7 linked regions of the Homo sapiens genome follow. The protein of the gene in region 1 purifies or fractionates together with the protein of each later gene. This does not show direct contact. Each region holds a gene or a part of one and is shown on either strand. Other genes may lie near its edges. The genes, in order: ST7, ACP3, PM20D1, GM2A, SMPD3, CTBS and LRRC32.

Region 1 (3,500 bases):
TTATAACAGGGAACACTTCTACAAAGGAGGCAAGGCTTACCCCACCAAGCTATGTGCCAGATGAAATGTCAGAGATAAATTGTGATGGATTACTCACACATTCATCTCACACTATATATTCTGAGCAAACCTCACAAAACTGGGTGGGGACAGAGGTGCAGAGGGGTTGGGAAGCCATCAGTATCAATGCCCAGGGTTTCATCATCTACTAAATATTATTAAAATGTTATGGGCACTAATTCAATATAGCTAAACAAATAGTAATCATGCAAACGTGGATTAAAATGCTTCCCCAAGAAGCAAATGTGGATCGACTTGTTGGAGTTTGTATAGATGTACAAATATGAAAGGTATTCTACCAAATTGATTTAAAAAATACTGTTTAAGTGGATTTGAATTCCAATCAAGATGAATAAAAACAAAAATCTAAAAATGTATAACTCGGGAGGTGTTTCTAAACTTTATTAAAAGTTTAAATCTTAACTTTTATCATGTGGGAAAATTGATCTGGAGAGATTAATTATCTGTATTTTGATGATGTTAGGCCACCTAAATTCTGCTTTTGTAGCATCAGATGACATTAGGGCTCACACTGAATTACGGCTTTCCAATCAATCCATCCTTTCCCATGATCAAGTGTGTTACTCTCCCTGTTACAATGTCATCAGCATGTTAGTCTCACTGTTCCTATGAACAGTACTCACGGAGGTAATTTTTCTTCAACAGATGTCCTCTTACTACAGCCTGCTGTAGATATAAAATATAAAAGCTCTACCCTACTCTGGGAATGTCAGATAACAATCCTTGCCTTCATGTATGGTAGTGAGGGATGGGGGCAACATGCAGCAATATTTTTAGTTTTAAATGATACATTTCAAGGAATCATAGCTACATCCTCAGCTGTGTAACTACCAGAGCCTTCTCAAAATGCTGTCAATGTACATATTTATCTTTTGCATACTTATTTCAAACAGGAATCAGAAACAAAGAATGTTCTCCCTCACAAGAAATGACAAGGTTCCATTGTAACCAGCATCAGTGCACATATGGTATTTATTCTGGTGTCTGAATATTATTTAAAAGTAAAAACATTATGTATGTGATTCCAGCATTTGGAATGCAGTCAATCTACACCGCAGTGGTATCACTCTGAGGTTACAGCACATTGCCACGGAGAATATAAATCACTATAAATGTGGGATTAGAGCAGAGCCAGTTTGCTGGCAGTTTGCTGAGGTAAAAATGTTATCAATTTTCCTCTCATAACAGAAACCTCTTAAACAGAGATTAAAACATTAAAAACACCCCAGACTTTAACTCTGCTTAAAATGAAAGGCTCACCCTAGTTCAATCAGACCTTTTCTTGCACGCAAACAAAGATGACTTTTGCCCGCTAGAACAAGCAAGAGAGGAGTTCTTTGCACAGGTTGTTAACACACAAAGATCATTCCAAGGAACCAACATCTCTCTCATTAGAACCAGACTTTCAAGAGAACAAAACACCCCCCACAAAAACAAACAAAAACAAAAATAAGCCTTTTAGTGCCTTTATAGGATACACTAAAATCTCTTCTGGGAAGCACTGAATTTAAACTTAAACTACATTACGGCAGGATTTTAATGCCATTTCCCATAAATGATGGCTGCTACAAAAGCATCTGAAAAATGTGGAAAAACCTACGTGGGAAGTTTTTTTTTTTGTTTTTTTTTTTCCCAAATCCAGATTCTCCATGTGCAAAGGGCTGCTGGGTTGCTGTAATTAAGTATCTGTTCAAGTTCATATGATATAAATAAACCCTCAGTTTTCAAAGTGGCTATAAATTTGAATGCTAAATTTTATTCAAAATTGAAGTCAGTTTGCACTTCAGGGAGTAATTTTTTAAATGAAATACAGGAGTGCAAGATCTTGAGAGTGTTCAACCATAGAAATCTAATGGTTGGTTGGTGTCTTTTCAGTCAAATGCTACATGTTTTTCACTCCAATATTTGGCATGCATATAGAATTTTGTGCGTCAAGTTGGCCTTTTCCTTTTTCTAATTGGTTCTGGTCTTTTTTGGAGAGGTTAGAGACACAATACAACTTTAAAAAGAGTGCATGTGTACACACAGCCACCCACCCACCCACACCCTCTTCCCGGATTGCCCTCCACCCCCATGATTATAAAGATGCTTATGGTGCTCTTAAAATCTCTCTCATGTCAGTTGCCATTTGCATTGAGCTCAAAAAATAATATTAAGGCTTTTGGCTTCACTAAACAAAAGCAAATACAATTTCTGCTTGCAATTCTATCCTTTACCCACCCTGCAGTGCAGGGCCCAGTCAAGTGTGAGATAAGCAGGGGAGGTCCAGAGAGAGGCCGGTAGAGGCACTGCACAAGCCTTGCCAGCGTCACCTCCCACCTCCTGGTCCCTTTCACTGCTAAGACATGCAACTGCTCCATGACAGCCTTGTGCCTTTTGCCAAATGTCCAGAAATTTTGCGAATCTAAGTATTAAAAACACACTGATTTGGTGGTGCTAATAAGAATAGAAAAAGGTCATTTGAACAGATCTATTTTATGAATGAATACAGACCTAAAAATCCTTAAGAAAACACAAATTTCAGAGGAATTAAAAATACACATGTATTGGGTTAAAAACAAAACAAAAAAGTTAGGCCACTCAGAGTGAATACATGGTATATAAATGATATTTCTGCACTTTCCTCTGTGTGCCATCCCTTCCCCTACCTTGATTTTGGTTGTGAATTTGCTGAAGGGTCAAAATGAAACTGAGAATTAGTGAAAGAACAGATCATGCCTTCACAATCAAGTCTGTGGCACAATGCTGTCTTCTTCTATCCCTGACCAGACACATTTTCTAGGTTCCAAGTCTATCAGTGCTGTTCCCGTCAGAGATTCTCAATTGATACTGGGGGGAAAAATAAACAGAACCAAAGAAATGACAAAAGGATGGATACATGAACAAGTTAATTCCTGATTTTCCCAATGACTTCTAATGACCTCTTCTTACTCTACCTACTAGATAGGCAAGGATAGAATGTAATCAATCTTAGAGTATCTTAGATAATTTTATACAGATTATTTGTAACAGAGGGAACCGAGTTTGAATCCCAGCTCTACTTCTTATAATCAGTTGCTTGACAAAAGGTGAGTGGCTTCTTATGTGACAAGCACACAAAGGTGAGCCCAGCACACACTGCCCCTGCCCTCATGGAGCTCACCACCAAGTGCCAGAAGCAGGATCCAATCATGAAAGTAAGAGCAAAGGTTCCCACGGTGATGAATACCTCCAAGGGAGTCATGGTGCTGTGTGTACATAATGGAGAAGCGGCCAAAGTGGCATCTAAAGGATGAGCAGGACCTGCCTAGGCTCACTAGCGTATGACTTTGCGTGGGTCGTTAATCTGTGTCCCTGTCTCTTCATCTGTAAAATGAGAATACCACAGGCCTCAAAAGGCTGGTAAAGGAACTAAGTGTAACAGCAGAGGTCAAGGCATC
Region 2 (3,500 bases), on another chromosome or scaffold:
ATCAGAGATTCCAGCTCATTAGTTCCTGAGTGGGGCCCTGACATCTGCATTTTAACAAGTCTCCCAAGTGATTCAGATGCATGTAGTAGAGCACCATGCTTTGGAAATGCAGCATTCAAGTTTGTCTTTAATCCAGAGCCTTACTAGAGCTTTGGGAGCCAGAGAGGAGGTTGTTACGGTGGCTGCTGCTTGGTCCCACTTGTCATTTGCTTGTCACACTTGTCATTTGCTTGACCACCACTATAATCACTTCCCATCTACGATAGGGACAAGGTGGGAAAGGAATAATATACCGTGACCTGAGTAGCGGAGAAGCAGGTACTTTAGGTCTAATTGTGTTCTTACAGCTGACTTTTTAAATAGTCGTCTGTATGAAGCAGTGATTTTCACACTTTAGCATGCACAGAATCACCTGGAGGACTCAATAAAACACAGACTTCTGGGCTTTAATTCCAAAGTTTATGGTTCACTGGGTATTGCGTGAAGAATTTACATTACTGAGAAGTTCCCACGTGATGGTGATGCTGCTGGTCCAGGGACCACACTTTAAAAACCACTGATCTAGACAGCCATCATCTTATGATTATGCAGATTAAAAATACCTAGACAAGGCAGATTAAAAGTACCTAGACACTGATCTAGACAGCCATCATCTTATGATTATGTAGATTTAAAGTACCTAGACAAGGCTGGGTGTGGTGGCTCAGGCCTGAAATTCTAGCACTTTGGGAGGCCAAGGCGGGTGGATTGCCTGAGCTCAGGAGTTTGAGACCAGCCTTGGCAACATGGCGAAACCCCATCTCTACTAAAAATATAAAAAATTAGCCAGGCGTGGTGGTGCTCTCCTGTAGTTCCAGCTACTTGGGAGGCTGAGGCACGAGAATTGCTTGAATCTGGGAGGCAGAGGCTGCAGTGAGCTGAGATCGAGCCACTGCACTCCAGCCTGCGGGGACAGAGTGAGACTCCATCTCAAAAAAAAAAAAAAAAAAAAAAGTACCTAGACAAGGGTAGGAATCTGAGCCCTAGAACCTTGTCACTTCAAATGTGGTCCATGTACCAGTGCCATTGTCATCCTTGGGAGTATGTTAGACATGCAGAATCGCAGGTCCCACATCAGACCTGCTGAATTAGAATCTACATTTTGACAAGATTCCCAAGTGATTCATTTGCACATGGAAGCTTGAGAAATACTGCCCTAATAGAATCTGATGGGTAATCAAGGTTCTTCAGAAGAAGAACTCAGATCCTGCAGCCTAGAAGAATCTTTTGGTCTTAATGGGAAAACATAGCAACAGAACAGGAGTCTATACAGAGCCATAGGTATTAACAAGCAAATCTGAATTTTTGTAGCCTCTCTTTCATTCAAAGGGACAGAAGATGGGTAGGCTATGGTGAGAAGAGCTTTGACCTGGGAGACAGAAGATGCTGGTCTCAAATAGCCTGCCTGAGTTTTCTCCTCTATGAAATATAGTCAGGGCAGAAATTCTCAGCCTCGGCTACACATTAGAGTGAACTGATCACCAAGGAGCTTCTAAAAATCCCAATGCCCAGGACACATACTAGACCAATTAAATAAGAACCTCCCAGGCAGACATCAATATATTTTTTAAACCTCTCCAGATAATCCCAATGTTTTGGCAGGATTAAGACCCATTAGTTTTTGAGACATTCTACTCTAAAGATTCTGTGACATTTTCTTAATTAATATATTTAAACAGATCAGGACAGAAGCAATTCACCTGGCCTTGTGGCTCCAAACAGAAGAGTCATCCAATCTTACAAGCAAAGGGAATAGGGCTTTGGAACAGTGACTAAAGATGGCTTTGCTCCCCAGTTCACCTTCTCCTTAGATGCTCTTCAGAAAGTAGGGCTCCCTGTGTTTAACTGACCACTTATAAGGAAGGTCAAATCCCAATATATCCAGCTGACAAGAAATCATATTCTGATATCAGCACTTTGGGGAATCATGTTTCCCAATGCTGTTGATTCAGCTTATTGATTACAAGACTATTTTTCACTTTCTCATGTGAAGCCTAAGAAATTCAAATCCTGGCTTATGATTACCACTTGGCTCTCTTCAGCATTTCTAAGCTCATATAGTCTTTGTTCATGTACATCTCTTACATTTAAATAAAGCCAGAAGGGCAAAAAATATCAAAACAGACAATTCTATATACATTTCCCCTTGAGACTCATCAAGAATCTTTTTTTTTTTTTTTTTTTTTTTGAGATAGAGTTTTACTCTTGTTGCCCAGGCTGGAGTGCAATGGTGCGATCTTGGCTCACTGCAACCTCCACTTCCCAGGTTCAAGCGATTCTCCTACCTCAGACTCCCGAGTAGCTGGGATTACAGGTGCCCACCACCAATCCTGGCTAATTTTTGTATTTTTAGTAGAGAGAGGGTTTCACCACGTTGGCCAGGCTGGTCTCGAACTCCTGACCTCAGTTGATCCGCCTGCCTCGGCCTCCCAAAGTGCTGGGATTACAGGCGTGAGCCACCACACCCAGCTTCATCAACAATCTTTAGCTAAAAGTCCAACCAACCTGGGTGAGTTGGCCAAATCCTTGTGGCCATGAGGATTCCTTTATGGGGTCAGTGGGAAAGGTGTCAATGGGACTTCGGTCTCCATGCCGAAACACCTGAAAGTAGATGTGAGAGAGTGATGTTACAAACGTCACTTGGGTGTTTTGCTTCTGCTCATTATAATAGTTTTTTTTTTTCTAACTCATTGGTTTTAACTTTGGCTTCCCATTGTAATCACGTAAGGAGTTTTAAAAGATTCTGAGGACTGGCTTTCAACCTTAGTGATTTTTATTTAATTAGTCTGGGATGTGGCCAGGACATCAGGATTTAAAAAATCTCCCTGGGTAAATCTCTAGTTAAGAACCACTATTCTAAGTTCACTAACACTTTCACTGTGTTTCAGGTAATGTAAGAATCAAGATGATCAGCCATTAGAAGGCAGGTGACACATAATGGAGATCGGTTTGTACATAAGATAGGACAGAAAGGAACACAAAGCTGACAAGAGTACTTTACTGCAGACAAACTCTGATGAGAAGTATTCTTCCCTTAATGATTACAGTAATAGTGGTATAACTTTTTTTTTTTTGAAACAGTGTCTTGCTCTGTTGCCCAGGCTGGAGTGCAGTGGCGAATCCCAGGTTCAAGCAATTCTCCTGCCTCAGCCGCCTGAGTAGCTGGGACTACAGGCGCTTGCCACCACGCCCAGCTAATTTTTTTATTTTTAGTAGAGATGGAGTTTCACCATGTTGGCCAGGCTGGTCTTGAACTCCTGACCTCAGGTGGTCCACTTGCCTCGGCCTTCCAAAGTGCTGGGATTACAGGTGTGAGCCACCGTGCCCAACTAGTATAACTTTTTTTTTTTTTTCGAGACTGAGTCTTGCTCTGTCATCTAGGCTGGAGTGCAATGGCACCATCTTGGCTCGCTGTAGCCTCTGCCTCCCAGGTTCAAGTGATTCTCATGCCTCAGCCTCCC
Region 3 (3,500 bases), on another chromosome or scaffold:
AATGTTGGTTGAATAAATGGGACACTGGACCAGCCCTAGGACTGTAGTTAAACCCGGGCCCTGAGGGCCACATCTCCCTGATGCTGCATGAGTTGTTGTCTGGAACATATGGTACATACCTCTTGGACTGTCTGTCCAGGGTGAATCCGGAAGTTGACTGTGGCCTGGGCCACTGGGGGGATGACATTGAACTAGAGAGAGAAGCACAAAACCCTGGCTTGAGTCAACCTCAAATCTTCTACATCTGCCTGCCCAGGAAATGCTAATTTCCTCAGCTCAGGCAGAGTTGGCTGATTTGACTTAAGGACCCAAGGCTTAGCTTTTCTAGTCTGCCTCTTGTCTTCTCTGAACTAAGTGACATGTTATATTCAGAGCTGAAGGGGTGTCTCTGCTTTAAGCCAGACCTTCCTGCTTCTTGGTGCTGCAGGGGGTCACAGAGATGTTCAGAGCAAGGCTGCTTTCTCTGATCACCCAGATATCTCTGTTTTGGCCCCATGCTGTGCTATTAGAAGCCTTCTGTGTGCACTTTCTTTCCCAGCACACCCAGGACATTTCTGCAGCTGTTAACATTAGTGCTTACTCACGATGGGGCAGCCAGAGCCTCTGTTGACCCCCATCATGGCATAGCACGGGGCTCACATCAGGTTTGATCCTTGAGGGGGATGAGAAGAACACATACTCCTCACATATTCCTGGTCAGGCAGGAACAAAAGAGTGACAGAAAAGTAACCTTCAGAGTAAGAAAAGGACCCTAGTGCTGGCCAGTGCTCTGCCTGTTCTCACCTATTCCCAGCCAGTGACTGAGCCAAGACAGAGGGATCTGGCTTGTTCTCTAGGGCTGTTAGTATGTTTCTGAGACCCTAAGACCTAACATAACCTTTGGGAGCTGGTTCCCTCTTATCCTTGAGGCTGCTGAGCAATTGTTCTAACCAATCAGATAAGCCAGTCAGGCAGTAATTGCCTCCCCATTCCCGACCTTCTAGCAGGGATTGGTGGTTTCCCAGGTCCAGTTGTAAAATCTGACTTTTTTGCCTGACCAGGAGGAATCCAGGACTAACTGGAGAAAAGAGTTAGGCTATGGAGGGATTGTTCCTTGGAGGCCGGGAGACTCCCCAAGTGCATATCTTTCTTTGAACTCGTATGGTGCAAAAAAGCACTAAGTGGTCAGGGACAGAGCTGGGCTGTTGCAAATTAGCTGTTGCAACCTCTTTGTGCCTCTGTTTTCTCAACTGGGTATTGGGGCAATACTCATAGGACTCTTAGAAGGCTCAGATGGAGTAACAAAGTATCCTGGGGAGATGAAAACACCATTCAAATGTCAGGACACAGTGCTATTATTCTGATGAACACTACAGCTGACACACTGGACGGTCCAGTGAGTTATGCCAGGAATTAATTCAGAGGCATCATTCACTTATATACCCGATTACTAGAGTGCTTCAAGGTCACATTGTACTCTAGGTGAATGGTGCCCCCTGAAGTTGTGCTGGTGGTACTGGCAGTTACAAGAATGGTCTAACTCCCTTCAAGATTTCAGAAAGGCCTATGTCTTTGCGTGGCTAGGCTTGGATCCAGCTGACACACACAGAAGGAAGGAAGAGCCAGTAGATAGATTCAAGGAAGGGAGGAGTGGAGGGCGGTAGGGAAAAGCTATATGGGGAGGAACCAGGGATGTTACCTTGACCCCTGCTTTGAATATGGTGAGTGCCGTGGTGGTCCTGATTATTGCATTGGTTAAGGGATTTCTCTCCATAAACCTAAAACAAAAGGACCAAGGTCAGATGTTAGAAAGAACCAATGGGGTGAAGGAAAGGGCGGAAACATTACCCACTTTCCTGAACCTTGGGGATCTTTAAGACTGAGAGAGACGTCTTAGAGATGTCTTAAATATACACACTTAGAGATGCAGTATCTGGTGGCTGAGGGATGATTAGTCAGGCCCAGTTAAGCCAAGGAGAGGGGCCTGGGGGGTGGGTAGGTTTGAGGTGAGGGATGTGAAAAAAGGAAAGATAATACTTTACCTGCTTATAAGTGGTTCAAATAGCCATGGGTTGCTCAGGATTATATTGACAGGGAAGGGAAACTGGGAAAGAACAAGGTCAGCACCACAGGGTCACCTCTAGTTTAGCCTGGGTCTCTGAGACCTGAGTCTCTCTCTACTTTAGAGCTGCCTCAGGGGCCCTTAGCAGTCAGGAGTGCTGCTAAATTCAGTTAGCTCAATCCCTGCTAGAGGATCAGGAATAGGGAGGCAATTACTGTCTGGCTGGGCTTATCTGGTTGGTTAGAACAATTGCTTAGCAACCTCAAGGATAAGTGGGAACCAGCTCCCAAAGGGTAGATTAGGTCTTAGGGTCTCAGAAACACACTAACAGCCGTAGAGAACAAGCCAGATCCCTGTGTCTTGGCTCAGCCACTGGCTGGGAATAGGTGAGAATAGGCAGAGTGCTGGACAGTACTAGGGTCCTTTTCTTACTCTAAAGGTTACTTTTCTGTCCGTCTTTTGTTCCTAGCTGATTAGGAGTATGTGATACTTCTTCCCATACCTCATTTGCCAGTTGCTGCAATACAGTCACCACTGTCCCGCTTCCAAATATGATAGGCATTGGTGTCTGCTCCAATCTGGAAGAGAAACAGAGTCCTCAAGACTTAGCGAACCCCAGCCAAAGATCAGTGGCTTGAAGAGGAGAAGAAGGGAGATAGGAGGAAGTTTCAACGCTCCTGGCCAAGAGGTCTCTCATTCACCTCCCTCCCACCTCCACCAACTCAACATTCTGAAGATCTCAAAACATCCCCAGGAGCTTTCCCTGTCTACCAAGTCTGCATTAGGGTCCTTCTTTCCTCCCTCTGCTGTTCTCTAGAATCCTGTGTGTCCACTCTCATAGCCCATCCCATACTACAGCAGAATTGTCAGTCTCCTGACAATTTGAATGAATATAGCACTCCTTCCCACTTTGCTAAGAAAACCCAGCCAGGAGTAAGCTCTGCTGTTACAGATTCTGCTGTCCTCATTCATAGCCAGCAACTCTTATTTATTTTTGTCCTCCTGCCAGGACAGGTGGAGAATTTCGACAGCTCTACCAGTCATTGCCAATTTGTGATTCTAAATGTCTGGACTCTGGACTACTCTAGCTGCCTGACCTAGCTTCTGCCTGTAGGTCCTTGCTTTCCATATGGATATACTGACAGATCCTCTTCTGACTCCAGCCCTTGCAGGATACTGGTGGCTCTGTCTCTCCTGTGGCTCCCCCAACCCCCACCTTGGAAGGAATTCTCACTCCATTTGAGATGACCCCAGCCTGGTATCTGTGAGCCATGCTGAGATAACTCTTTATTTACACCTGTTGTATTAATCACCTGGATCTTTAGTCTGTCCTGGGCTTCCCCTTCTGTTCTTCCTCTAGTGTCAATTTTTTATAGCATAGTTTCCCAGCCCAACTTTAGGGCAGGAAGCTTAGCCTCCTCAAATTTAAAGTGGGAAAGTGCCAGGGCTTCCATCTCAA
Region 4 (3,500 bases), on another chromosome or scaffold:
TTGGCTCAGCACCATTTATTAAAGTCTGCTTTGACCTGCGATTGAAGATGCCACCTTTAACTCCTCATCCCCCACCCCTAAGAAACCTCACGGAACATATGACCCAAGAGCAGAGCAGACATAAAAAGATTAACTGAGCTACTGAGATTCGGTCAAGAATGTGAACTAAAAATGAACTGTTGAGAATAAGGCTGGAAGATCCAACAGAGGGAAACGGCTGTGGAGGTCATTGCCAGGTGAGGTGTCAGATCCCCGGCATTGGGAAGTGGTCAACTCGTGGGTTGGTAAAAAGAATTCACCAACAACAGTATAGGTTTGAAAAAGGAAAGGTATTAGAAGAATGCTGCAGAAGACTGCCATGGGGCACCTCGGTGAGAGGACTGAATGTACCACGGTGGATTTTTCCTTAGGGATATTTATGGACCTTAAAGCGGGACCGTGGGGTTGCAGTGAGTTTCAGCATGGCATTCCGGAGATGTACAGAAATTTTAGTTACTTCTAAGGTTTTTTTCGGGGAAAAGAAATCTGGAACCAGATGCCTGCTTTAGATAATAGGAAAGTCTAATTACTTTTAATTTTCCCCAAATAAGGCGTTTTGCCTCTGCATGGCCTGATAGTCACCAGGTGGTCTTTGCTCCCTTTTAAATTCCTCAGATAAAAAGATTTTGTCTCTGGGACCTGTTCAATGGTCACTAGGTGATTTTTGCTCTCCGCAGTCATGATGTGATGGAAAGCAAAATAGCAAACAAGGGAGCTGGATGGCGATGAAGCAGAGACAACAAGCAAGCTCAAGCTCCTGCAGAAGGGTCCGTCCCTGGAATCACCTCGGCTCACCTGTACCGTTCCAACAAACCCTTCCAACCAAAAGAGCCCCACCCCAAAAATGCTTTTGAAATCCTGAGATGTGATCAGTGAAATATGCAGCCAAGGCAAGGGGAAACTGTCCGCAAGTTAAAAAGATTTATTGCTATTCCAGGCTTCAAATGAGCCCAGAACTCAGGGCTGGTGTGTGTTTCAGAAGTTGTTATGATGTAACAGGGTGGTAGAAAAATCCAGGCAGTTTGATGTCGAGGCCACCCTCTCTTCCTTGGACCCCTGCTCCAAAAGCAGCTGCTGGTGAGGCTCTTTCCCATCTGCCTCATTCACCCAACAGGACTCCAAGACTGAGGCAGGCAGCCTTGTGATCCCCACAGCTCACAGGTGAGAGGCTGCTCATACCTCTCCTAGCACTGGAAGAGCCTTGTCCTTGGGACCGGACACTATGGCTTTGGCCCTGTGGAGGGAGAAACGGTGCCACAGGAGTTGTCTTAAGAGGACAAGGCATGCACGGTCTGAGATCAGAGGTTGTGACGTGGCCACCCATGAGCCAGTCCGTTTGGGACACATCACACTGCACAGCTTTTTAAAAAAATAATTAGCTGCCAATCTTTTAAAATGGTAAGATTTCATATACAAATCTGGATTTTTGGCTTCTCTAGGAGTAAACATTGAAACTTTTTTTTTGAGACAGAGTCTCACTCTGTCACCAGGCTGGAGTATTGCCAGTATCTGGCAGTTGTCTTCACAGACTGGCTATGCACTCTCCAACTGACTCCAGTCCTTGCCACCCTTAATTATATTTCCAACTGGAGACCAGGCCTCAGCAGCCTTGTATCAATGGGCACATGTGCTGTGACTTTCTGTGTAAGAAATATTTACATTGTAATAGCATCTTTAATCAAAAAGGAAAAATCGGCTGGGTGTAGTGGCTCATGCCTGTAATCCAGCGCTTTGCAAGGCCAAGGTGGACAGATCACGAGGTCAAGAGATCGAGACCATCCTGGCCAACATGGTGAAACCCCATCTCTACTAAAAATACACAAATTAGCCGGGCGTGGTGGCAGGGCCTGTAGTCCAAGCTACTTGGGAGGCTGAGGCAGGAGAATTGCTTGAACCCAGGAGGCGGAGGTTGCAGTGAGGTGAGATTGCACCACTGCACTCCAGCCTGGTGACAAAGTGAGATTCTGTCTCAAAAAAAAAAAAAGCGAAAAATCGAAATCAAGCCTGGAAGCAACATGTTTCTCACGGTTCTTATCAGTCATTTAAGTCTCTTGCTAGGCCCTGCGGGTACCTGAGTTTGTAAACAACAGAGCACTCCTAATATCTCCCCCAAGGGATTCCTCCCCCACACACCCTACCTCTCCAGGATACACTGCACCCTAGTATTAATTGGGCAAATCTAGAAAGGAAATAAAAATTAGTCACAGAAGTTAAGGGAGGAATAGACTAAGAGCAAATACTTTTGCCCCTTCATTGTAACAGGGGGCCGGAGGAGAACAAAAACGTTAATACTCTCACTTCGCTTTTAACTTAGTGACAAAAAAAAAAAAGAGTGAAAGAGAGAGAGTCATAAAGATTCTTCAGGTCCTAAAACACTCTGGTTCCCATTCCTTAACTGCTTTGGAAATGAACGAGGCTCTTTAGAGAGAATGTTAACGGGGATGAGTAACGTGGTCAGCCCAGCAGATGCCCTGGGCTATCAAGAACTGTCCAACTCATTCTCCCTTAGGTCAGGGCTGCTTGCCCCAGCCTAAAATGTAAGTGGTACAAAATGATTTTCAGTGAGGGTAGTGGACTCACTGTAGAAAGGGGATTAAAGGGGGGCAGAGAGTGGGAGTTTGGCCTTGGCAAACACAAAACAGAGGAAAAGGGACCTTCCTCACACCGCTCCATTCTGCTGTGGCAGATGCCATGTTATATGCCCTTTAGAGAGGCAGCGATCTTGATGCAGCCCAGACGCTTCCCACTGCTGCTCAGGACGCTCTCTATGCGGTAGTTCCCGGTGGTGAGCCAACTGGGCAGCTCCAGGTCAGGCACAACGAATTCGCTCTTGGGCAGTGAGTAGGTTCCCTGCGGGAAAGCCAGTGGACCGCCAGTCAGTGGGAGCCTACTGATGGGGTCTTTCTCCTAGAGCCACTGCTAGGATTGCAGCCATGAACTACCACCCCTCTTCCCATTCTCAAAACAGCCGCACAAGATGAGAGACGGCCATAGCACTGTAGAGCATGGATTATTATGGATAAAGGGCCCTGAAGATCACATCTAAGTTCAAGTCTCCCATTTCGTAGATGGATAACTGAGGCTCCCGGAAGATAAGTGATTCCTGATAGGTCACACTGGCTTACAAATCCAGAGACATGCAGATCTGCAGAAGGAGAATGCAAAGACCCTTCTCTCCAAACCCCATCTCTTTAGCCACAGGGGTAACGCTCTCTCCTCCCTAAGTACTTACTTCTTTGAAGGGACAGTGGCAAGGAAGCCCATAGGTACGCAGGGGCTCTGGGCAGGGCTCCCCAGTAGGAATTAACATGTCAAGCACATCACAGAAGTGTTCAAAGGTACAGCTGCCAATGTAGTCTGTGCATGGGATCTTGATCCAGAGGCCAGCCACCTCCTTCTCCAAAACTAAATCCACCTGGTAAAAAAAAATAAAACAAAGGTTTGAAAAAGGTTATAAGTGT
Region 5 (3,500 bases), on another chromosome or scaffold:
AACCCTACCTTGCGGGGCATGCAGGTGTGTGCAGGCGATGTACCCGACGATTCTTTGGTCCTGAGGTGTGCTTCCCACCTGCACCTGGGGGAGGAGGGGGTCAGTGCTGCCACCTGCCAGTCACTGTGGCCCTGAGAGCACAGGACACTGGCAGTGCCCACCCACCCATGAGGTCAGACCCTCACAAGCCTGGCTCCTGGCTGGATTCTGGGGTCCGAGTAGGGACAGGATGTGTCCTGCTTCTAGGGACTTACGGATCTGGGCCAGAGGCGGGTGCTGAAAGAAACTATTGGCCTGTGGCGTGGGGAGTGCTGGCGGCCATCTGTGCAAAGCATGGGGGAAGTGCCGAACCGCAGCAAGGCTCCCCGGAGGCCCAGGCCCTGCCATCTCCCAGTGACCAGCGTGGCCACGGCTCTCAGTTCCTTGTCCAGTCCTGTCTGTGGCTCTTTCCTCCCTCCCTCAGTTACACCCTAGACCTGGTCACACCCTGGTGCTTTCTCCCCCTGAAATCTCAGGGGGTTGCCCCTGTGCCATGGCGTGGCCTCAGAGCCCACCCCACACAGCAAGAGGCCCAGACCCTGCCCCTCCTGGCCTCGTCGCCTTCTGGCTGCATGGTGAGTCATCTGCTTTATAGGCCGTGGTCCCGTTGTCACCCGTCTTGGATGAGAGCTCCCTGACCTGTGTCCTAGGCTGGCCCCTGCACACCCCTGGCTCCATCCTGAGCCCACTGTGGCAGCATCCTCTTCAGGTCTCCCCTCTGCCCCGACCTCCTGCTTACCTCCTTTACCCAAGACGGAGCAGGTGACCCTGGCAGGATCCCAAAGGCTGGCTTAATACAAATTAGCATCTCCACTGTACCCTGCAGGCAATTCATAACTGCCCTACCCCAGGTGGGGGCAAGATGGAGCCCTTGTCAGTGCTCAGCCCAGGAGAGGTGAGGGATGGCCACAGAGATGCCCTGCACAGAGAGGCCGCTTACCAGCTCCTCATCCCCTGCCCCTGGGATTCCTTCCCTCCTGTGCCTCTGTACCCTCCCCAAGCCATGCAAATCCATTCCAGACTGAGTTTCCCAAGATGAGGAGACCCCAGACCCAAAAAGCACTCCAGGGAGGTGGCTGGGCAGGACACACTGCCTCTCCCAGTTGTTGGCTGAGGGCAGAGGGCCGCAGGGTGGGTGCCCCACATCTGTGGAGCTCACAGCAGCCCAAACGTCACAGCCCATCTGCTCCAACAGCCTCGGCAGGCTCCGTCCTTCCTTCACTGCTGCAGTCGGTCAGGCTGGTATTATCTCCTCCATCTGGACGTCCTCAGCAGCAGGTGCCCCTGGCTTTCTACAGCTCTTCATCCCCTTCCCAGCCCTAATGCACAGCCTTCCTTCCCCAGCACCTGGGGGTACGAACGTCTGGCTGTTCAGCCCCACAGGTTCACCATTCACTTCTTGCCCACAGACAGACCCAAACCTTAGCCTAACAGCATCCCCGCCCCCCGAATGGCTCTGTGAGATCACGCAGCATTGATGGTTCTGCTGCAAAAACAAAACACTGATGAAGCCGCCATGCTCAAAAGGCCACATGAGGCTGAGCACGGTGGCTCACGCCTGTAATCCCAGTACTTTGGGAGGCCGAGGCAAGTGGATCACCTGAGTTCAGGAGTTCGAGACCAGCCTGGCCAACATGATGAAACCCCATCTCGACTAAGAATACAAAAATTAGCCGGGTGTGCTGGGCACAGTGGCTCACACCTGTAATCCCAGCATTTTGGGAGGTTGAGGCAGGCAGATCACAAGGTCAGGAGTTTGAGACCAGCCTGACCAACATGGTGAAACGCTGTCTCTACTAAAAATACAAAAATTAGCCGGGCGTGGTGGTATGTGCCTGTAATCCCAGCTATTCAGGAGGGTGAGGCAGGAGAATCGCTTGAACCTTGGAGGCGGAGGTCACAGTGAGCCAAGATCATGCCACTGCACTCCAGCCTAGGCAACAGAGTGAGACTCTGTCTCAAAAAAAAAAAAAAAAATTAGCTGGGTGTGCATGCCTGTAACCCCAGCTATTCAGGAGGCTGAGGCAGGAGAATCCCTTGGACCTGGGGGGCGGAGGTTGCAGTGAGCCAAGATCGCCCCATTGCACCACTCTGGCCTGGGCGACAGAATGAGACTGTCTCAAAATAAATAAAAGACCACACGGGGGCGCCGTCTTCAGGCAACAACTGCTCCTCCTCCATGAGGATCATCTCAGGCCCAGTGGGCTCGTGCTGGGGTGGGGTGGCGACGCATGGACATTACTTTTCTGGGTCCTTACAACGGCTCAGGCACATGATAAAGTGATGCTGCTTTTACCGTTGAACACACTGAGGCCAGAAGTTGAGTTGTGGGCCGGGGTCACAGGCTCACATGGTCTAAGAGGCAGCTTCCAGTCGGATCTGTTTGTCGTGCGCTGCTGTGCGCTGCTCTGCGCTGCTTTCTGAGGGGCTGGTGTCTTTGCGGTTTCTCCCCGGCCGCCTGTTTGTTGGTCTTAAGGCGTCAGCCTCTCACTCATCCAACACTTGGTGTCACCTGCCCCGCGCTGTGTCCCGGACAGGGTTGGACACTCGCAGGGAGGCCTCAGACTGGGCCCTGCACGACAAGAACCCACTGGCCGGAGGAGTGACGAGGTCCTGCTCCCTCCCGCCCCGCTTCTCCCTCCTCATCTGCCGTGTGATCTCACCAAGATCCACTTGATTATTTGCTGGGCCTCATTGATTCCTGGCTCGTGGCCTTGGGAGCCGCAGAGCCTTGTGTTTCTCTTGCAAAAACAAGCAATCACACGAAAGGCTGTGCCTTTGAGTCCTGGCGGGCAAAGACTGTCAACGGAAGAGGTGTCCAGAATAAGGCTCTATTGTAGGTGAGGAAAAAGGGATTCCAGTCCCTTCCTTCACAGAGCCACATTTCCCTGAAGGCTCTGAAGTCCCATACGGGAAACCATGAGGGCCTTCCGGGAAGGAGGGGACCGCTGATTTCTGCAGCGAGTCCCTCCAGCGTCCCGGCCCCTCTCCGGCTGGGCCTGTCCCCAAGGCAGCCCCACGTACTTCACTTCTCCGCGCTGGGATCCGCGTGTGCTGGGCACACCACAGCTCTGCTGTCCTGGTGCTCTGTCTGATGGACAGACAAGACCCTGGGCACGAGGGCAGAGGAGCCCATGAAGGGAAGAGAGGATTGTGTGGCTGGCCGCTGAGGGAGCTCCATGAGGTGGTGTGGCCACACCCAGTGTGGGACCAAGACAAGCAGGGGCCAGGGGTACAGGAGCCCCTCATCGGGGTTGTGGCTGGGGCAGAGCTGGAGCTAAGGGTGGCGGGGGCAGGGGGGCGGGAGGTGGTACAAGGTGACGTTCAGACTTCCTGAGGCAGTGGAGGGCATAAGAGGAGTCACACCTGGCCTCAGACGAGGAGGGTGGCTGAAACCACAGCAGGGCTGATGCAGAGGAGGGGGCCTGGGCCAAGGGAGCTGGAGATGTGGGGTGCACCCA
Region 6 (3,500 bases), on another chromosome or scaffold:
AAACAGTAAATGTATTTATGGCTCCATCTGCAGTAGCCAGAAACTTGAGTATTATCAGACTTCTCTCCTTTGATTACTCATTCGATTAGTCACAAAGTCCTGTCAATTTTGCCTCCTTAGGATCTTCCAGATCTGTTCACTTAACGCCACTGCTCCACAATTTTAGTTGAGGTCACCATCATCTCTTACTTGGATTCCTCCAACAGTTTCTGTATTCTGCCTCCAGTTTTGGTGTCTCTTTAATCCTTTTCCCACTGCAGCTGAAAATATTTTTCTAAAATGCATACCTTCCCCTTTTAAAAATGCTTTTATTCTCTCCCTTTACCTCAGGATAAACAAGGTAGTACTAACTTCTCAACAGAGCTTATGAGGCCTTTCATGATTTAATCCATGCCTACTACTCTCTGGTCCTTCACTAATGCTCTCTCCCCAAATTCTAGACGTCGGCCATACTAAATATTTAGTTACGCAACCACCATGTTGTCTCTGCCTCCAGGCCTTGGCACTTGCCACTCTTCCTTCCTGGCCCATCCTTCCCCTCTTTCCCAGCCTGGCTAATTACCCCTGCCACCAATTATCTTGGGACCCCTATGTCTTATGCACTTGTACTCTCACTGCCACCATAGTGTTTGGTGTATGGTGATGTTTGATGAACGGTATTTTGGACGGTCAGCATAATATTCTTGGTTTAAATGATGGTGCTCATCTTTGTTCTGGCAGGTCTTTGTGTTTGATGTTGGACAGAAAACTTGGAAATCTTATGATTGGTCACAGATTACAACTGTGGCAACATTTGGAAAATATGACTCAGAACTTATGTGCTACGCTCATTCAAAAGGAGCCAGAGTAGTACTTAAAGGTATGTTGTTTCCAGATCTATGTGTGCAGCAATTGGGAAATTTATCTGTATCACTTGCTATAGTCCCGACTTTCCAAAAAAGTCCTTTTATGTTTATCTGTTTTTGTTAGGATCCTATAATTAATCTTAGATACTGTGTAATTCATTTCACAAACACAGATCTTTTTAAAAGAATTAAACCACTGTATGGTTTTGAGCAAAATGTTAACTGCCAAATTAGCCTTATGACCTTTACTTAATCATAGTCCACAATTTCTGTTTCTAACTTCAGAACAATTTTACTAATGATTTATAATGGTTATTTTGGAGATTCATGAGTAATGGCTTTCTGTTACTTTGGTATATTCTTTCTCCATTGGAAAACTTCAGTTAAGGGCTTAGTCTTCCAAAATAATGAAATGTTTTTGCATACATGTTCAAAAGATATATACTTCTTCCACAGGAGATGTATCCTTAAAGGATATCATTGATCCTGCTTTCAGAGCATCCTGGATAGCTCAAAAACTTAATTTGGCCAAAACACAATATATGGATGGAATTAATATAGATATAGAGCAAGAAGTTAATTGTTTATCACCTGAATATGATGCATTAACTGCTTTAGTCAAAGAAACTACAGACTCTTTCCATCGTGAAATTGAGGGATCACAGGTAAAAACTCATTTATTTTTTGGAAACCTCATATTTTCCATATCAGAATATACTCATGAGGGTATAACTAATATAATCTTTGTTTTATAGTAATGCAATGGGAAAGAGTTTCAGCACTTATTTCCTAAAAAATTTTTCTGGAGCCTTTGGTGTTCTTATTTAAGGAATTTTAAAGCCCTAAATCTATTCTCTATTCACAGCAAAATACAACACTGGGATTACCCCCACTACTTGCCTTGTAGCACAGTTAGAAGTGTTAGGCAATGGGAGAACAAAAATCAAGGGGGGCGCCTAACCAGCTTTTACCAATGCAGGACAGAAACAACCCAGGAGTAGAGGTAGTTCTGGGGAAGTGTATCACTTGCTCTACAGTCTCTGAATTACTTGCACCCAAGGCCCAGTAAAGCTTAAAGGACTAACTACACAGAACTGTGACAGCTATAACAATAGGCAGTGTGCTTCCCCACTGCCATAATGAACATGATTAGAGCAGAAGGTAACAACACAAGCTATCTTGCCAGACAACAGATGGGTAACAGAGGATAATGTGAACCCAGATCAGTGATCCTCAAACTTGGCCACATATCAAGATAACCATAGGTCTTAAGGAAAAGTAAGCATGTGTTTACTTTTCCACACACATGCACACTGTGAACTCACTCCCAGAAATGATTTTTCAAAAGGTTTTGGGTAATCCCAGAGCCCCCAATTTTAAAAAAGTTTCATTGGTGATTATAGTTAAGAAGTAATAGGCTAGACAATGAGTTTTTTTGAAGACGGGGTGCAGCTCCTTGATATCTAACAGAATGCTTAAAAATGTATTCCAGTATAGAGCATTATGAGTATTATAAACCAGTGATTCCTAAACCTGTCTCAGAATTACCTGAGAGTGCTTGTTTAAAATATCCTGAGTGTATTAGTTTGTTCTCACATTGCTATAAAGAAATACCTGAGACTGGGTAATTTATAAAGACAATAGGTTTAATTGGCTCACGGTTCTGCAGGCTATACAGGAAGCATAATGCTGACATCTGCTTGGCTTTTGGGAGGCCTCAGGAAAACTTACAGTCATGGTGGAAGGCAAAGCGGGATCAGCACTTCAAACAGCCAGAGAAGGAGAAAGAGAGAGGGTGGGGAGGTGCCACACACTTTTAAACAATCAGATCTTGTGAGAACTCTATCACGAGAACAGCACTGGAGGGGGAAATCTGCCCCTGTAATCCAGTTACCTCCTACCAGGCCCTACCTCCAACATTGGGGATTACGATTCAACATGAGATTTGGGCGGGGACACAGATCCAAACCATATCACTGAGATTGACTCAGTAGGTCTGGGATAGAGCTTAGAGAACTGTATTTTTGCCAAGTGTCCTAGGTGATTCTGGTAGAGTTGGTCATCATGAATTTGAAAATTACAGGTAAAATAATTTGAGAATTACTGGTAAAATAATAAGCAATATGACGACTGACATTTCTGTGGTTTTATGCAAATAGGGAAGATCTGTCAGTATGGAATTCAACTTGTCAGGAGAGTACAATGTAGATTAAGAACAGCAAATACCTGGCATACAGGCCACAATACCCCTTCTCCTCCTCACACATTTTGGCCTCAGAAACTTTTCCTTCATTCTCTAGATAGTGATTACTAATAGGTTAGAATTGATGTGTGGAATATATGGGAAACAACCTATTTGACAATCCTGATTAAGCTGTAGTGAAAGAGCAGAGAGGAAGAGATTGAGCAAAATCCTTGCAGTAGGAATATCTCTTTCTGTCTCTTGAGAGGTGAGGAGAACAATTTGGGCTACATGTCAAGTTCATGTTAGGTGAATTAGTGGGAGGGACAGTTGCAAAGGTAGGCCAGATTGTGGAAGATCCAGAATGTCAGGCTGAGGACTGTGCATTTTATTCTGTGTGTAATGGGTTATGTGTGTAAAATAGTGTTTGGGGAAACTATTCTGTAGGAGTATGTAAAACTAGATGAGAAAGG
Region 7 (3,500 bases), on another chromosome or scaffold:
CCTGTGGGGAGCCGGATGAGGTTGTTGGACAAGTTCAGGTAGATGAGTCTCGGGAGCGCGGCCAGGTCGGGGAAATGGAGCAGTTTGTTCTCCCGCAGGTCAAGCCAGGTGAGCTGGAACTCAGCCTGGGGCTGGGAGGCCGTCTGAAAGGCCTCGATGCTGTTGCAGCTCAGGTCTAGCACCCGCAGCTGCTGGAGGCTGAAGTCGGAGATGCAGGTGAGGGAATTCCTGGAGAGGTTGAGATGGGTCAGGCGGGGCAGACCCTCGAAGGCGCCATCCTCGATGTCCATCAGCACGTTGCTATGCAGGTCAAGCTGCTCCAGCGCAGGCATGTCCCGGAAGGTGTGGCGGGTGAGGCGAGTCAGACTGTTCTCCGCCAGTGAGAGGGTATGCAGGCTGGGTGCCTCCCCCAGCAGCCGCTCCAGCAGGCCGCTGTACAGGCTGTTCCCAGACAGGTCCAGGGAGGTCACGCGTGGCAGGGGGCCCAGGCCACCAGCACTCAGCGCAGTGGCCATCGCCAGCCGGTTGTGAGCCAGGCTGAGGTGCTCCAGGTGGGTCAGGGCCTGGAAGGCTCCTGGCTGGAGGAAGCTGATCTCATTGGTGCTCAGGTCCAGGTGACGAAGTGCTGTGTAGAAGCCCAGGGGTGAGGCCAGGATACTCCGCAGCTGGTTCCCAGATAGATCAAGGGTCTCAGTGTCTGGCGGGAGCACCGAGGGGACCTGGAGCAGGCCCAGAACCTGGCACGAGACCTTCTTGTCCACCTGGGGAGGGGTAGGGTGGGGAGACAGCTGGCATAAGTGGGCACGGTAGGGGATGAAACCAGACATGTTTATCCAGGAACCCTGCCTGGCTGGGGAACCCTTCTCCCATGGACTCCCAGAATGCTCAACTTTCCCCCACCGCAGCCTGATCACCCCATGCCTGGATGACCCATCCGGCTCCCTGCCCCATCTCGGGCACCCAGCGCAGTAATGGGCATTAAGGAAGGAACTCGATGAAGGTTCCATGGGTGGACAGATGGAGAGATGATAGACAGATAGAAGGACAAATAAACTAACAAAGAGAAACCCTGTACTTATTATTACCCCTCTTACAGGAAACAGCCATATATCCCACAGAGTGACCCCAAGCCAGTGAGCAGCAGGGCAGAGCTGGGACCCAGGGCTCCTGATTCTATGTCCTAGGTCCCTTCTATGGGCACAGATAGTTAAATTTCTGGTGGTAGATGGGAATTTCTCCACTTTGGGAGAAATGTTTCCAAAAGGGAAAACTGTAATTTGTGCTCTGTCATCAGTTTTTATCTTGGCCTCCCTGCCTCAGACCTCATTCAGGCTCTCGTGTCATGGGCAGAGCCTGGGTCCTGGGGCCTGCCTTCCTTGTGGATGCTTCCGAGATGTGGCTTCCTCTCTGTTGCTGTTACCTCCTAGGAGGTGGCTTTCTTCCCAGGCTGGGTCAGGGGACCGGGCCCCTGGAGGTGGGAAGGGCCAGGGAAAAGATGGCCAGAGCCAAATCCACAGTCTTTGGTGATGAGACTGTGTTTGTGCTGTGCGACCTCCAGGAAGTCACATAACCACTCTGTTTTCTTACGTTCTTCCCCAGCAGCCACTCAGCATTTGACATCTTGGTTAATACTTTCAGGCCCATGGTCCCATTGGTCTTTACCACAGCCTGCCCATCTGATACGATCACCCCTATTTACAGAAATCTAGGCTCAGGGAGGGGAAGGGAGGTGCCAGGATTGCCCAGCTGGTGAGGAGCAGAGCTGGGATTTGAACCCAGGTTTTTTAACAACAAAAGGCCGAACTCTTGTTCTTCCACAGATGTGCCTTCTGGGACCAAAATTCTTCCTGTGCAAATGCAGGTCTCCCTCTTCTCTTCCAGGCCTCCAGGAACCCCAGCCTTTCCCAGAAAAAGGTCTGACTTCCACAATCACCGGGCTCAGGCTCACCGCCCCCAGCTTCTGTCTCCGCCAACCCGTTCTGACCCACTCACTGCTAAATGCCTGACAACTGCTCAAAAGCTCTACTCTGACAATGAGGCAGCTTGGCTTAAACTTCTCCACGGTGAAGTCCAGGATCCCCAGCAGGGCCTTCGAGGCTGTTTGTAGCCCCTGCCAACCTGTCCCCCACCTCCCACCCCAGCCCACATGCAGTGACCACAGCTGACCACTGCCCATCATGCGCTCCCACACCCACTGCTGGGGCCTGCTCCCTGAGCTGGTTATGCCATCCCCAACCAGATCCACACATGAACTCTTCACACTGAGCTTCAGGGCCTCCTCCACCAGGGAGCCCTCCCTGACTGTGCTTCCTCTCAGAGCTTTGCCCCGCTGAATTGTGGCTGTGTGTGTGAGGACCTGCTAGACAGCGAGCTCAGAGCAAACAGGGACTGGTTTGGTGGATGTGCATGCCTTGGACCTGACTAGCAAGTCAATTTTTCCTAATGAATGAGTCCCAGACATCATCAGTTTAGTAAAGGTCTGAGGCACTGAATCAATCACTTCTCTAGGAGGAAAGAAAATGCATAATTGATATTTTCAAAATATAGTCAAAGACGGGTAGAGCAAGAAGAGTTCAGCTGACCCACTTCCCAGATGTGAACACTGAGGCCTGAAGATGGCAGTGACTTGCGTGAATTCACAGTGAGCCAGTGGCTGAGCTGGTAGGGAGGGAACACAAGCCGGTGTGTTCCTCCCCTGGTCCAGCTCTGCGCTTCCTCCTGAGAGCCCCAAGGTGAGTAGGGGGAGGAAGAGACCTGCCCAGCCTCAGGCCTCCGTGTGGCTCTTCTTACTCCATGCAGCACAGTGACTCCATGTAGCCTCCAAGGGAGGCAGCTTCACAGGGGCCTCAGGAGGCCCAGGGATGCCCCGTCAGTTGGGCACCTGTGTGAACCTGAAACCTGCCCAGCTGCCTTGCCCATCCTTGCCCTTCCTCCCTCACAACCTCTCTGTCTGCAGGGGCCACTAAACATAGCCTCCTCCTCACAGCCCTTACCCCCTGGGGCATTCCTTACTTAAAGCAGAAACAACAAAATGACCTGTGATGGAGCCCCAGCTGTGTCAGGCTGCGTGCTGAGTGCAGAGACCCCCTACCCCATTAAATCTTCCCAGGCATTGTTCACCCTGTTCCTATTGTACCCCTAACGAAACTGAGGCTAAGGGGAGTGGGCTGCCCAAGATCAGACAGTCAGGGGCTCAAAACTCCCATTTGCAAATTCCTTTTCCTATTGGTGCCAGCCAAGTTCTGACCACTGGGCCCTCAGCTGGTCAGCACAGCAAAGAGCATCATGGACCCACTTACTGACTGTTACAGTGTGGGGGGCACCGTGCTGTGCCCCGCGTGTTACCCCCGGGCAAGTGCAGAGGCATACTGCCTCTGGATAGGCAAAGGCTCCCTGGGGCACCAGCCCCTGAGACTTGATCCAGGACACAAAGTTTGCCAAGCCCACAGCCCAAGACTGGCTTTCCATTCAGGGGCCCAAGACCCCTGCTCTAGAAGCCT

The links.
Region 2: the proteins of ST7 (region 1) and ACP3 purify together in Homo sapiens (affinity purification with mass spectrometry; one large-scale study listed by BioGRID and IntAct). This does not show direct contact.
Region 3: the proteins of ST7 (region 1) and PM20D1 purify together in Homo sapiens (affinity purification with mass spectrometry; one large-scale study listed by BioGRID and IntAct). This does not show direct contact.
Region 4: the proteins of ST7 (region 1) and GM2A purify together in Homo sapiens (affinity purification with mass spectrometry; one large-scale study listed by BioGRID and IntAct). This does not show direct contact.
Region 5: the proteins of ST7 (region 1) and SMPD3 purify together in Homo sapiens (affinity purification with mass spectrometry; one large-scale study listed by BioGRID and IntAct). This does not show direct contact.
Region 6: the proteins of ST7 (region 1) and CTBS purify together in Homo sapiens (affinity purification with mass spectrometry; one large-scale study listed by BioGRID and IntAct). This does not show direct contact.
Region 7: the proteins of ST7 (region 1) and LRRC32 purify together in Homo sapiens (co-immunoprecipitation; one large-scale study listed by IntAct). This does not show direct contact.

Annotation. Positions count from the first base shown.
Region 1 is NC_000007.14:117,215,501-117,219,000, reverse strand, and holds part of ST7 (suppressor of tumorigenicity 7 protein), read right to left. Parts: intron 1-3,500. UniProt on the Homo sapiens protein: May act as a tumor suppressor.
Region 2 is NC_000003.12:132,327,407-132,330,906, reverse strand, and holds part of ACP3 (prostatic acid phosphatase isoform PAP precursor), read right to left. Parts: intron 2,641-3,500; coding exon 2,545-2,640; intron 1-2,544. UniProt on the Homo sapiens protein: A non-specific tyrosine phosphatase that dephosphorylates a diverse number of substrates under acidic conditions (pH 4-6) including alkyl, aryl, and acyl orthophosphate monoesters and phosphorylated proteins.
Region 3 is NC_000001.11:205,840,133-205,843,632, forward strand, and holds part of PM20D1 (N-fatty-acyl-amino acid synthase/hydrolase PM20D1 precursor), read right to left. Parts: intron 2,620-3,500; coding exon 2,544-2,619; intron 2,084-2,543; coding exon 2,022-2,083; intron 1,758-2,021; coding exon 1,679-1,757; intron 192-1,678; coding exon 120-191; intron 1-119. UniProt on the Homo sapiens protein: Secreted enzyme that regulates the endogenous N-fatty acyl amino acid (NAAs) tissue and circulating levels by functioning as a bidirectional NAA synthase/hydrolase.
Region 4 is NC_000005.10:151,266,685-151,270,184, reverse strand, and holds part of GM2A (ganglioside GM2 activator isoform 1 precursor), read right to left. Parts: intron 3,455-3,500; coding exon 3,272-3,454; intron 2,890-3,271; coding exon 2,734-2,889; 3' UTR 2,694-2,733; coding exon of another isoform or gene 2,545-2,693; 3' UTR 1-2,544.
Region 5 is NC_000016.10:68,365,009-68,368,508, forward strand, and holds part of SMPD3 (sphingomyelin phosphodiesterase 3), read right to left. Parts: intron 2,839-3,500; coding exon of another isoform or gene 2,731-2,838; exon of another isoform or gene 2,336-2,730; intron 85-2,335; coding exon 9-84; intron 1-8. UniProt on the Homo sapiens protein: Catalyzes the hydrolysis of sphingomyelin to form ceramide and phosphocholine. Ceramide mediates numerous cellular functions, such as apoptosis and growth arrest, and is capable of regulating these 2 cellular events independently.
Region 6 is NC_000001.11:84,567,941-84,571,440, reverse strand, and holds part of CTBS (di-N-acetylchitobiase precursor), read left to right. Parts: intron 1-720; coding exon 721-859; intron 860-1,301; coding exon 1,302-1,510; intron 1,511-3,500. UniProt on the Homo sapiens protein: Involved in the degradation of asparagine-linked glycoproteins. Hydrolyze of N-acetyl-beta-D-glucosamine (1-4)N-acetylglucosamine chitobiose core from the reducing end of the bond, it requires prior cleavage by glycosylasparaginase.
Region 7 is NC_000011.10:76,660,748-76,664,247, forward strand, and holds part of LRRC32 (transforming growth factor beta activator LRRC32 isoform a precursor), read right to left. Parts: intron 3,120-3,500; exon of another isoform or gene 1,882-3,119; intron 762-1,881; coding exon 1-761.